Linked DNA regions of Homo sapiens: region 1 is linked to region 2. Evidence: fine-mapped expression QTL. A gene starts in region 2. The other region holds a variant in brackets. All regions are shown on one strand. Distances are between the middles of the regions.

The links. PIP is the estimated chance that this variant, and not a neighbour inherited with it, causes the effect.
Region 1: its variant is the best candidate, but not a certain one, in a credible set for the expression of ZNF155 in whole blood (INTERVAL, PIP 0.50).

Annotation. Positions count from the first base shown.
Region 1 is chr19:43,815,853-43,821,237 of GRCh38, forward strand. It overlaps a transcript of LYPD5 not described here. Among named protein-coding and RNA genes, the nearest start is that of ZNF283, 8.8 kb to the right of the region's middle. The variant T/C (reference allele first, on the strand shown) is at 2,753.
Region 2 is chr19:43,981,674-43,987,058 of GRCh38, forward strand. ZNF155 (zinc finger protein 155) reads left to right here and starts at 2,515. Exons shown (of 5, transcript NM_198089.3): 1 at 2,515-2,572. RefSeq lists a silencer at 2,212-2,411.

The DNA.
Region 1 (5,385 bases), 170 kb before region 2:
TCAGCCTCCTGAGTAGCTGGGACTACAGGTGTGCACCACCATGCCTAATTTTTGTATTTTTAGTAGAGATGGAGTTTCACCATGTTGGCCAGGCTGGTCTCGAACTCCTAACCTCAAGCGATTCACCCGCCTTGGCCTCCCAAACTGCTGGGATTCCAGGTGTGAGCCACCACGCCCCACTCTATCTATCTATCTATCTATCTATCTATCTATCTATCTATCTATCTACCTATCATGTATCTATCACTTTCAAATGTCAAAGAGCCCTACCAAATTATGTGCCTGTTTATCAGTTTAGGAAGTGTGAGTTGTAATAACTTATTCTTTACCTTAAGGGAGATACTATGGCATGTCCCAGATGATTGGACTTCTAAAATCTTCACTGATGTGGTAAGTTAGTGAACATTCATGAGGTTTATCTCCCTCTTTCTGTCACTCATTTGCATTACTATGGCTTCTACAGTGATTGCCACTTCCTGATCACCAGGTCAAATTAGCATGATTTTATTGGTGGAATGAACCAGTGCTATGTTCTTCAGAATGTAAAGATGATCAAGGCCTCTGTGGACTACAATATGACGGAGATTAGGAGGGTTATCAGGAACCTGGGGCAAGACAGTGCTGCAGTCCTTACCATGCACACATGAATGGCTTTTAATTCTCCTAAATGTCAGAGATCAAGTAAAATACATTTGTCAGATCATTAAGCACATACTAAGGACCAAAAACTAGGTTGGTCAACTCCAGTAAAGATGTCACATCTGACATAGCAGCTGAAATTGGAGCTGCTATTTGTTTACATTTAAAGTAGTCACTATGAATTAGCTTTGGCCACATAATAAGTGATACGGTTTGGCTGTGTCCCCACCCAAATCTCATCTTGAATTGTAGCTCCCATAATTCCCACATGTTGTGGGAGGAACCCGGTGAGAGATAACTGAATCATGGGGGTGGTTTCCCCCATACCGTTCTCATGATAGTGAATAAGTATTATCAGAGCTGATGGTTTTATAAGGGGAAACCCTTTTTGCTTGGCTCTCATTCTCTTTGCTGGCTGCCATGTAAGATGTCTCTTTGTTCTCTTTTGCTCTTCTGCTATGATTGTGAGGCCTCCCCAGGCATGTGTAACTATGAGTCCATTAAACCTGTTTTTCTTTATCAGTTACCCAGTCTTGGGTATGTCTTTATCAGCAGCATGAAAACAGACGAAAACAATCAGTAACCCCAAAACTCAGAGGCTTGAAATTACGAATATTATTTCTCACAATTCTGGGGGCTTTCTGAGCATTTCTTTTGCTCTGGGCTGGTTTGGCTGCAGCTGCATAGTATAGTCAGGCCTCACTCAAAGTTCTAATGGTTGGTTGGTTATTGTGGGGGAGGGGGCATGAGAATGACTTGGCCTTATGTTTCTCATCATCCCTCAGTCTAGTTCACGCTTGCATGAACCCATGGGAGCTGGGTTCAAAATGCAACAAGAAAGCAGTTTCCATTCAGTGAGTGTTTTTCAAACCTCTATATGTCACATTTACTACTGTCTCAAAGAAAATCAAATGCACATTCCCAGATTCAAGGAGTGGAGAAATTGACTCCACCTTTGAAGGGAAGAGCTGCAAAGTCATGTTGCAAAGAATATACACACAGGAATGGGAAGAATTTGTGGGATTTTTTTTCAATCTACCACATCCACTAGCTTCAGTCATGCAGGTTTTTTGCAGGGGCCAAGTGAAATGAATGGAGGTATGATAGGGACAAATAATCCTGCATCCTCTAAATTTTGATGATGATGCAATCTCTGCAATTCCTCCCACAGCACAGTATTGAGTTTCAAGGGTTTCCACTTGGCTCTTTATACCATAAGGACTTTATTTATTTTTTTTTTTTTTGAGATGGAGTCTCACTCTGTCACCAGGCTGGAGTGCAGTGGCGCCATCTCAGCTCACTGCAATCTCTGCCTCCCAGGTTCAAGCTATTCCCCTGCCTCAGCCTCCCAAGTAGCTGGGATTACAGGTGTGCACCACCACACGCAAGTAATTTTTTTATTTTAGTAGAGATGAGGTTTCACCTTTTTGGCCAGGATGGTCTCTATTTCCTGACCACATGATCCACCCGCCTTGGCCTCCCAAAGTGCTGGGATTACAGGCATGAACTACTGCGCCCAGCCCATAAGTACTCTTAGTTCACAAGTTAGGAAGCCACTATAATGAGTTCTACCAGAAGATGAGCATATCTATCCCAAATATATGTTAAAGGATAGAGGAAAACAACCATAGGGTGAGTTCATGGACTTACTGAACTCACTGTGAGATCAGACTTGGGCCAAACATGGATAAGTAACAAGCTTGAAATCCTATCACAAGGATCTTGAGGGTCTCTCCTGGAAACACTCCTCTTAGCTTACATTGCCTACAGGGAGGACCCTGAGAAGAAGTTTCTGTGCTATTATTTTATCAGCCGGTACAGTTCCAGGGAAGCAGGAGAGAGGGAAAAGTATAGTGTGGTAGGGAAGGAGACAACACTTGTATGAAGGTCTTACTGAGCTGGCCACTGCTTGCTATCAAGTGTAATTGATTGTTTAATTTTGTGTTTTAAGACCACCTAGCTGAGGAGAAGAAGGGAGGTGAATTCATCCACTGGTTCATGAAATGTTTGTCCCAGAGACTATTAACTCCGCTGTACTTCCAGGTCGCGTGTGAATAGTTCAATGGGTTCTGTAACGTCTCATGCATCAGCATCAACAGGAAAGCCCTGGGGC[T/C]TGAGACAAGTAGTGCCCATTGCAGGCATGAGGTCAGGTTTCGTTGCTGCTTGTGCCCATGTAGAGTTGTTCTGAGTTCATGCAGGGATGTTGCTGCAGCAGTGAATCAAGAGAAACAAGTTTCCAGAGGCCCCAGGCACAGGTGAGGCTGAGAGGATCTGAAGTGACACATAAGATGTGTCTGAACTCTTTCTTAATTCAACTCTTGCATGCAATTATCTGAGCCTGGTGATGATTAGAGTTTAAATTCTAAACTACTGATGCTGTATCATTAATGACTAATTGTCTATTATTAAAAGTTTCTGTCTCTTCTTGTCAATTCTTTAAGTTATAGCTTTCTAGGAAATTGACCATTTCATCTGTTTTCAAATTTATTCTAATTCAAAAAATATTTTCTATTCTTGTGTAGTCTTTTTCTTTCTTAATATTATTTGTGCCTGTTCTCTTTTTTATTCATCTTTTGAAATAATCTATTTTTTAATTATCTCAGAAATGGATCACTTCAAATAAGCAGTTGTTGGCATTTAGCCTCTATTGCATCAGTGTTTTCTATTTCTTTAACTTGTGCTTATTGTTGACCTCAACCAACTTTCTTTGTATTTATTCTATTATTCTGTGTTCTAACTTCAAGTTGGACATAGCCTTCATTCTTTTCATTTTTCCCTTCTTCTTCTTCTTCTTTTTTTTTTTTTTTTTTTGAGATGGAGTTTGCTCTTGTTGCCCAGGTTGGAGCGTAGTGGCATGATCTCAGCTCACTGCAATCTCCACCCCCAGGGTTCAAGCGAGTCTCCTGCCTCAGCCTCCCGAGGGGTCTAGGAGATTAGTGATTATTAGTTCTAGCGGGTTACAGTGACCGGTAGCACAGGAGGGATTGGCTTCCTTTTTCTGAAGGTGAACCGGGTCTTTTCTGTCCTTTTTCTAAGTAGCTTAAATAACACATGGTCAATAGGCACAATTTTCACAGGCCTCTAACTCATGACCCACTAATCCCCTAGACCCCCGTTGGAAAAAAGGAGAACGTGTAACCCTGGAGATCGATGGGTCAGGGCTAAACCCCCAAGTTGCCTTTTTAGTTTGAGGGGAGGTACACAGGCACTCTCCCAAACCAGTGTTTCAAACTTTTTATGATGAGCCGAATCTGCCAACACCAGAGCTTCCAAAAAGGACAAAAGAACTTGTTTCTCCAGCTAGCGGAAAGTGTAGCTCATTTCCTCAATGTTACTTTCTGTTATGTATGTGAGGGAACCACTATGGGAGACTGATGGCCTTGGGAAGCTAGAGAGTTGGTGCCCACTGATCCAGTTCCTGACCCAATTCCAGTTCAGAAGGCCCAAATTAGCAACTTCTGGGTCCTAAAAACTTCAATTATTGGACAATACTGTGTAGCTAGAGAAGGAAAAGACTTCACCATTCCTGTAGGAAAGCTCGATTGTCTAGGGCACACTCCAGCTGTCACTCTACACACAAACCCACACACTTGTGTCACAGTCACAGATTCATTCCAGTCCTGTCATACACCAAGCACTTTCTTCTTTTTGACACATACACACAGTCTGTCATACAAAGAGAAACACACCTGCTGTGTCATGAGCACACATGCAGTCACGAAGACATACCCTGGCCATTTCATGTGCACAGATGCACACACACCCCATTCCCTGTGTCACAAGACATCCCAGCCGTGGCACGTGCACTCTCATACAGACGCAACGTCACCATTCGCACGGTAGGGCACATCCTTGGCTCTATCACGCACATAATATTGCACACACCCCCTACACCATGTCTGTCACCACCACGGACGGTCCATCACACGCGGCCAGGGAGACGCCTGACCTCGTTTTGCCCCACCCCCTCCCTCAAGTCTTCATACCCAGCCACACTGTCGCCTTCTTCGGCTGCTCGCATTCGCCTCATTGCTTCTCCCACCCTTACCCGCACTGCCGACTGGGGCATGAGTCCGCAACGCCCTCTGCGCCTCGCCCTGCTTCGATGTCTCCTTCCGAAACTACACGCGGAACCCAAGAATCACTGGGATGCGCAAAGCGGATCAGGAGCGCACGCTCATTCGGCCCAGTGACCTGTGGGAATTGTAGTCCCGGGCCGGAAACGCAGGAGACGCCAGAAACCCAAGTTTGGGACGGCGCGTCCCAAGGGTTTCTGGAAGTTGTAACCTGTGCTCCGAGTGCGTAGGCGCAGGAACCCTTCGGGGGAATCCCTTTAGCAGGGAGCGTATATTGAAGAGTGCGTGCGGAGGTGAGAGCAATAAACTGATAACGGAAACAGATGGCATACTTCGTTTTCAGTTATCAAATTTCAAAAACTAAAAATGTAGATGGTACACAATATTGTTGAGAATGTGGGGAAATGAGAGCTTTCACACGTAGTGGGTGGAAATGACTACAGCTCTTTTACAGTTTTGTGTAGTAGCATTCACGAAGTGTGAAAGCAAACCCCTAAGCAACCAGCATTTTTACATACAAGAATCTAGCCTACAAAAATGCTGGCATGAAAGACAAAGATGTGGGTACAGTAATGCTTACCAAAGCCGTGTTTGTAATACTGAAGAATTCACATTGTAATACTGAAGAACCTCAATGTTCGTTTTTTGAGACACTGTTAGTCTGTGCTAG
Region 2 (5,385 bases):
GTAAAAAGGAAAAATAAGAAACACATCTATTCTGTTAAAAAAAAGTGGTAATGAAAATAATAAAATTAGTTACATAAAGGTGTTAGGTGGCAACACTGTGGAATTGGTTTAGGGGTAGGAAGGAGGGGAGTGGCACTTCTCTGAGAATAATATGTGGTAGAGCATTGACTCATGGGAACATGTTGATGACTGACATACCCAATAATATAAAATCAAGAATGAGATTTCTTTGTAGATAAACTAGGAAAGTGAAAATCATAGAATAACAAATTAACCTAAATGTATTTCAAATCAATAACATAAACAGTCTAAAGGTGACAGCAAGAAGTAATTTAAGCAACTTATTAAACAGTACAGTGTTTGACTATATATCCTCAGTCTAAAGACAAAAAGAACTATAAAAAATGTTGAACTCTACTTTTGCATTGTTTTTTACAATGATATGAATTAGTAACTCTGACACTGCATGATGCGTATGCAATGGTCTTAATGTTTGTGGCCCACCAAAATCCATATATTGTAATTTTTACCCTCAATGTGATGGTAATAGGAGGTGGGGCCTTTGGAGGGTGATTAGGTCACGGGATGAATACCCTTATAAAAAATGCCAGAAGGAGCTTGTTTGTCACTTCAACCAAATGAAGACACAGCAATATGGTGCTAACTATGAACAAGAAAGTGGCCAACTACCTGACACAAAATCTGCCAGTGCTTTGATCTTGGATCCCAGTTTCCAGATCTGTGAAGAATAGATTTCTGTTGCTTAAAAGCCGGCCGGGCGTGGTCGCTCACGCCTGTAATCCCAGCACTTTGGGAGGCCGAGGTGGGCGGATCACAAGGTCAGATCGAGACCATCCTGGCTAACACGGTGAAACCTCTTCTCTACCAAAAATACAAAAAAATTAGCCGGGCATGGTGGCGAGCACCTGTAGTCCCAGCTACTCGGGAGGCTGAGACAGAAGAATGGCATGAACCTGGGAGGCAGAGCTTGCAGTGAGCCGAGATCGCGCCACTGCACTCTAGCCTGGGCGACAGAGCAAGACTCCGTCTCAAAAATAAAATAAAATAAAATAAAATAAAATAAAATAAAATAAAATAAAATAAAATAAAAGCCAGGCAGGCTATGATATTTTGTGACTAAAAAATATTGGTACTGAGAGGTGGGCTTGCTGCTGCAACAAATACCTAAAAATGTAGCAGTCTTTGGAACTATGTAATGGATAGAGTCTAGAAGAGTTTTTACATGTATGCTAGGAAAAGCCTACATTGCCATGAATGGACTGATAAGGACAATTCTGGTTAGCGCTCAGAAATAGAGAATAAGAACTGTAGAGAAAACATCAATCTTGTTAGAGCATACCTAGGTAGTCATGATCAGAATGTTGGTAGAAATATGGACAGTAAAGGCCATTCTGAAGACCTCAGTCAGAAATGTTGAACATGTTATTGGAAGAGAAGAGAGCTTCTTGTTATAAAGGGACAAAGAATTTGGCTGAATTATATTCAGGTGCTAGTGTTTTATGGAAGGTAGAATTTGTGAATGATATAATTGTTTATCTGAATTAATTTCTAATCAAAGTGTTGAAGTTGCTTGAATCATCTTGACTACCCGTAGTGAAAGGCACGAAGTGAGGAATGACTGAAATAATTATTAATTAAAAGGGAAACAGAACTAAAATTTTTAAAAGTTTACAGCCTATCTACTTTGGAAAAAAAAAAAAACAGGAAACCTGAAGAATACAAGGGTATGGTTAAGCAACTAACTAATTCATGAATTTAGTATGGATTGGCCATGTCAACTGAAGCCAGGACCTATTGTCCAAGACAATGGAAGAATGACCCCAAAGGCATTTCACAGATTATGGCAGCTTCTCCTCCCATCACAGGCCCAGAGTGCAAGGACCTGGGGGACAGAAAGGGCCTTTGATGCCAGATATACCCTAATATATTAGGCACAGTTTCCTGCCTACTACGATTGAGCGTGTCAATAAATTTTTATCTCTTGGGAGGGCAGAACAGAGCAAGGATACAGCTGTAACTGGTTTAGAAATAGCAGTCACTCAATTTTCAGAGAAGTGTTCCTCATACTGTGGTTGGCACAGTCACTTTATCTAAAGAAAACCATGAAAAGTATTCTTTTTTAGTTTAGAAAAATTGATATAGAACATGAGACTCCATTTTTTTAAAATAAAAATATAGGTTGATAGGCCAGAATTCACAGGTCCACCTGCCTGAGCCAAAATTCTCACGCCTCCACAGAGCAAATGGACTCCATTTCCCAAGATACCAGCGAAACGCCTGCGGGAGTCTAATTGCCCGGTCGATGCGCAGGAAATTTGGCTCCCGCAGGCGTTTCGCGAGTAGCTTGGGAGGCGTGGGAATTTTGGCCCAGGCAGGAGGACCTGTGAATTCTGGGAAGTGGAGTCCATTTGCTCTGTGGAGTCGTGGGAACTTTGGCTCAGGCAGGCGGATTCGGGGGATTCTGGGAAGTGTAGTCCAGACGCCTGTGGCATCATCGACACTTCCGGTCTCCGAGCAGGACACTGCTACTTAACAAGGTGGTTTGAGCCAAGTATGTGTCTTGCGGGTCTTTGCGAAAGTGAACCAGTTATTAGGGGCGCCTAACGACCTGGGGGGTCAACTAAGGGGGTAAGAAGCCCTGGAGAAGACCTGAGGTTTGGAGATGCGAGGGGTGGGAGGGAAGTTTCGTTGCCGTCGATGGAGCCTTCTGGCGTTGGGGGCTGTACTCAGGTCCACCGGAGGAGTCGTCGGGGGTTCGGGGGGGGCGGGGAAGAACTCTGTCTAGTCTTGTGTGCCTGTTTAGAGGGTTTTCCAGGTGTTTGACCTCGTTCAGTCCGCCTCCCTCCACTCTTAAGTGTGCGACCTCTTTCTCGCGATATAACGTGGGGTGTTACTTAATCTCCCTGTACCTCCCATTGCCGTTTTTTAAATGAGGATTTCAGGACCATCCTGATAGAATTGTTTTAGGAGTTGAAAGTTGTGGTATAAAACAAAGACTTAACAGCTCCTGTCACTTGGTGTCCTGTTAATTTCCCGCGAAGTGGTCAGGTGCCCGGGTGGGGTCAGAGCTCCAGCTGCTCCGGCCCTTCTCTTGGAGCCCGGCAGGGCTCTGGATGATCCCGGACGCCTCTGACCTCTTTTTAGGAAGGCGTGGGTTGCATCCACGTTTCACGAAGGGAGAGGAGCATTTAACTTGTATCCGGGACGGCGACGCAGAGTGTTTGACAGCTTTCTCCTTCCCCAGCCTGACTTTTCTAAAAGAGCTGCAGGGAGGGACTTGGCTACTGAGGACAAAGCTGTCTACACGAGTGGTCTTTGGCTTTTCTCTTTTTAAAAAAAAGTTATTTATTTTGTTAGTCTGTTTTTATTATTGTTATTATTTGAGAATGAGGTTTGCTCTGTCTCCCAGGCTGGAGTGCAGCAGTGGCGCGATCTTGGCTCACTGCAACCTCCGCCTCCTGGGTTCAAGCGATTCTCTGTCCTCAGCTCCGGAGTAGCTGGGATTACAGGCATGCGTCACCATGCCCGGCTAATTTTTGTATTTTTAGTAGAGACGGGGTTTCACCATGTTGGCCAGGCTGGTCTCGAACCTGTGGTCCTAAGTGATCCGCCTGCCTCGGCCTCCCAAAGTGCTGGAATTACAGGTGTGAGCCACCGCGCCGGGCCGGTTTTTTCTTTTACAGAGATGTTCACCTCAACCAAGAGTGTATAGGATGTGTCCTTGGGCATGGGTGTTGATAATAATTAAACCTTAATTGGTAACTTAATTCTAAGGGCTTTATGGAAATAAATACATTTACGCCACACCATGGCTCTGTGGAAAGGTATTGCTCTTTTTCTTTTTTTTTTTTTTTTTTTTTTCCTGAGACGGAGTCTCGCTCTGTCGCCCAGGCTAGAGTGCAGTGGCGCGATCTGGGCTCAGTGCAATAGGCCGCCTCCCAGGTTCAGGCGATTCTCCTGCTTCAGCCTCCTAAGTAGCTGGGATTACAGGTGCGCACCACCACGCCCAGCTAATTTTTGTATTTTTAGTAAAGATGGGGTTTCACCGTTTTGGTCAGGCTGGTCTGAAACTCCTGACCTCGTGATCCGACCGCCTTGGCCTCCGAAAATGCTGGGATTACAGGCGTGAGCCACCGCGCCCGGTCGCTCTTTTCCATTTTAAATATGGGAGTGAGACACCTGGTGCTTAGTTCCCAGTAGAATGAGGTACAGCTGGAGCTGGAACCTAGGCAGTTTGGGTCAGAGCCTGAGTTGATCATCCCTTGGATACATTTTCATTGAGGTAGAGGAACTAGCTGGAATCAGGTGGGGAAAGAGAGTTAGGACTTGATTGAAGGGACCTTGAGAGCAAGGCTCATAGACTTGGACTTCTGTAGGAGTCTTTTAAAAATTTGTCAACATCCTGTTTCACTTTTTATAAGGATTTTGTATTGTGGAACCATATCATTGTGGAGCATTTTAAAATTAGATTAATAGGAGGAGAAAACATGTTTTAAATTACCCATGAATCCAAGATGTGAAGGTGCTAACTGTCTGATACAAGAGATGGAACTTCCAGTTCTCCTCCGTTTCTTTTTAGTCTTTCTCTGTGTCTATTGTATATTTATTTATAAGCATTTAAAAAAATTGTTATAATATCTTAATGTGTTTTCCCATATTTCTTTAACTATGGAAATTTTTAAATACTGCTAATAGAGAATAAACTAGTAAACTGCCATATTATGTCATGCTCATCCAATATTATTCCCATTTGTGTTTTTTTTTTTTTTTTTTTAGACGGAGTCTCGCTCTGTCACCTAGGCTGGAGTGCAGTGGTGCGATCTCGGCTCACTGTGAGCTCCGCCTCCCGGGTTCACACCATTCTCCTGCCCCAGCCTCCTGAGTAGCTGGGACTACAGGTGCCGGCCACCATGCCCGGCTATTTTTTTGTATATTTAGTAGAGACGAGGTTTCACTGTGTTAGCCAGGATGGTCTCGATCTCCTGACCTTGTGATCCGCCCACCTCGGCCTCCCAAAGTGCTGAGATTACAGGTGTGAGCCACGGCGCCCAGCCCCCATTGTTATCATCCTTATGACTATTTCCTGATAGTTGAAAACCTTTCATTTTTATATCATTTCAAAGCTGTAGAAGAGTTGCAAAAATAGTATAAGGAATTCTCATATACTCTTTACCCAAATTTGCCGATTGTTTACATTTTTCCTGTTTGCTTTGTTGGTGGCCATCAGCCAAATACTACCAGGAACATATCTGTAACCAGAGACGATTGTAGATTTCTGCAGCAAGGAAGCCCACATTCCATGGTGATCATGGGGTGACTTGGTAAGAGGTGTTTAGAAAGGGCAGGTTATAGGGTCTCACGTAA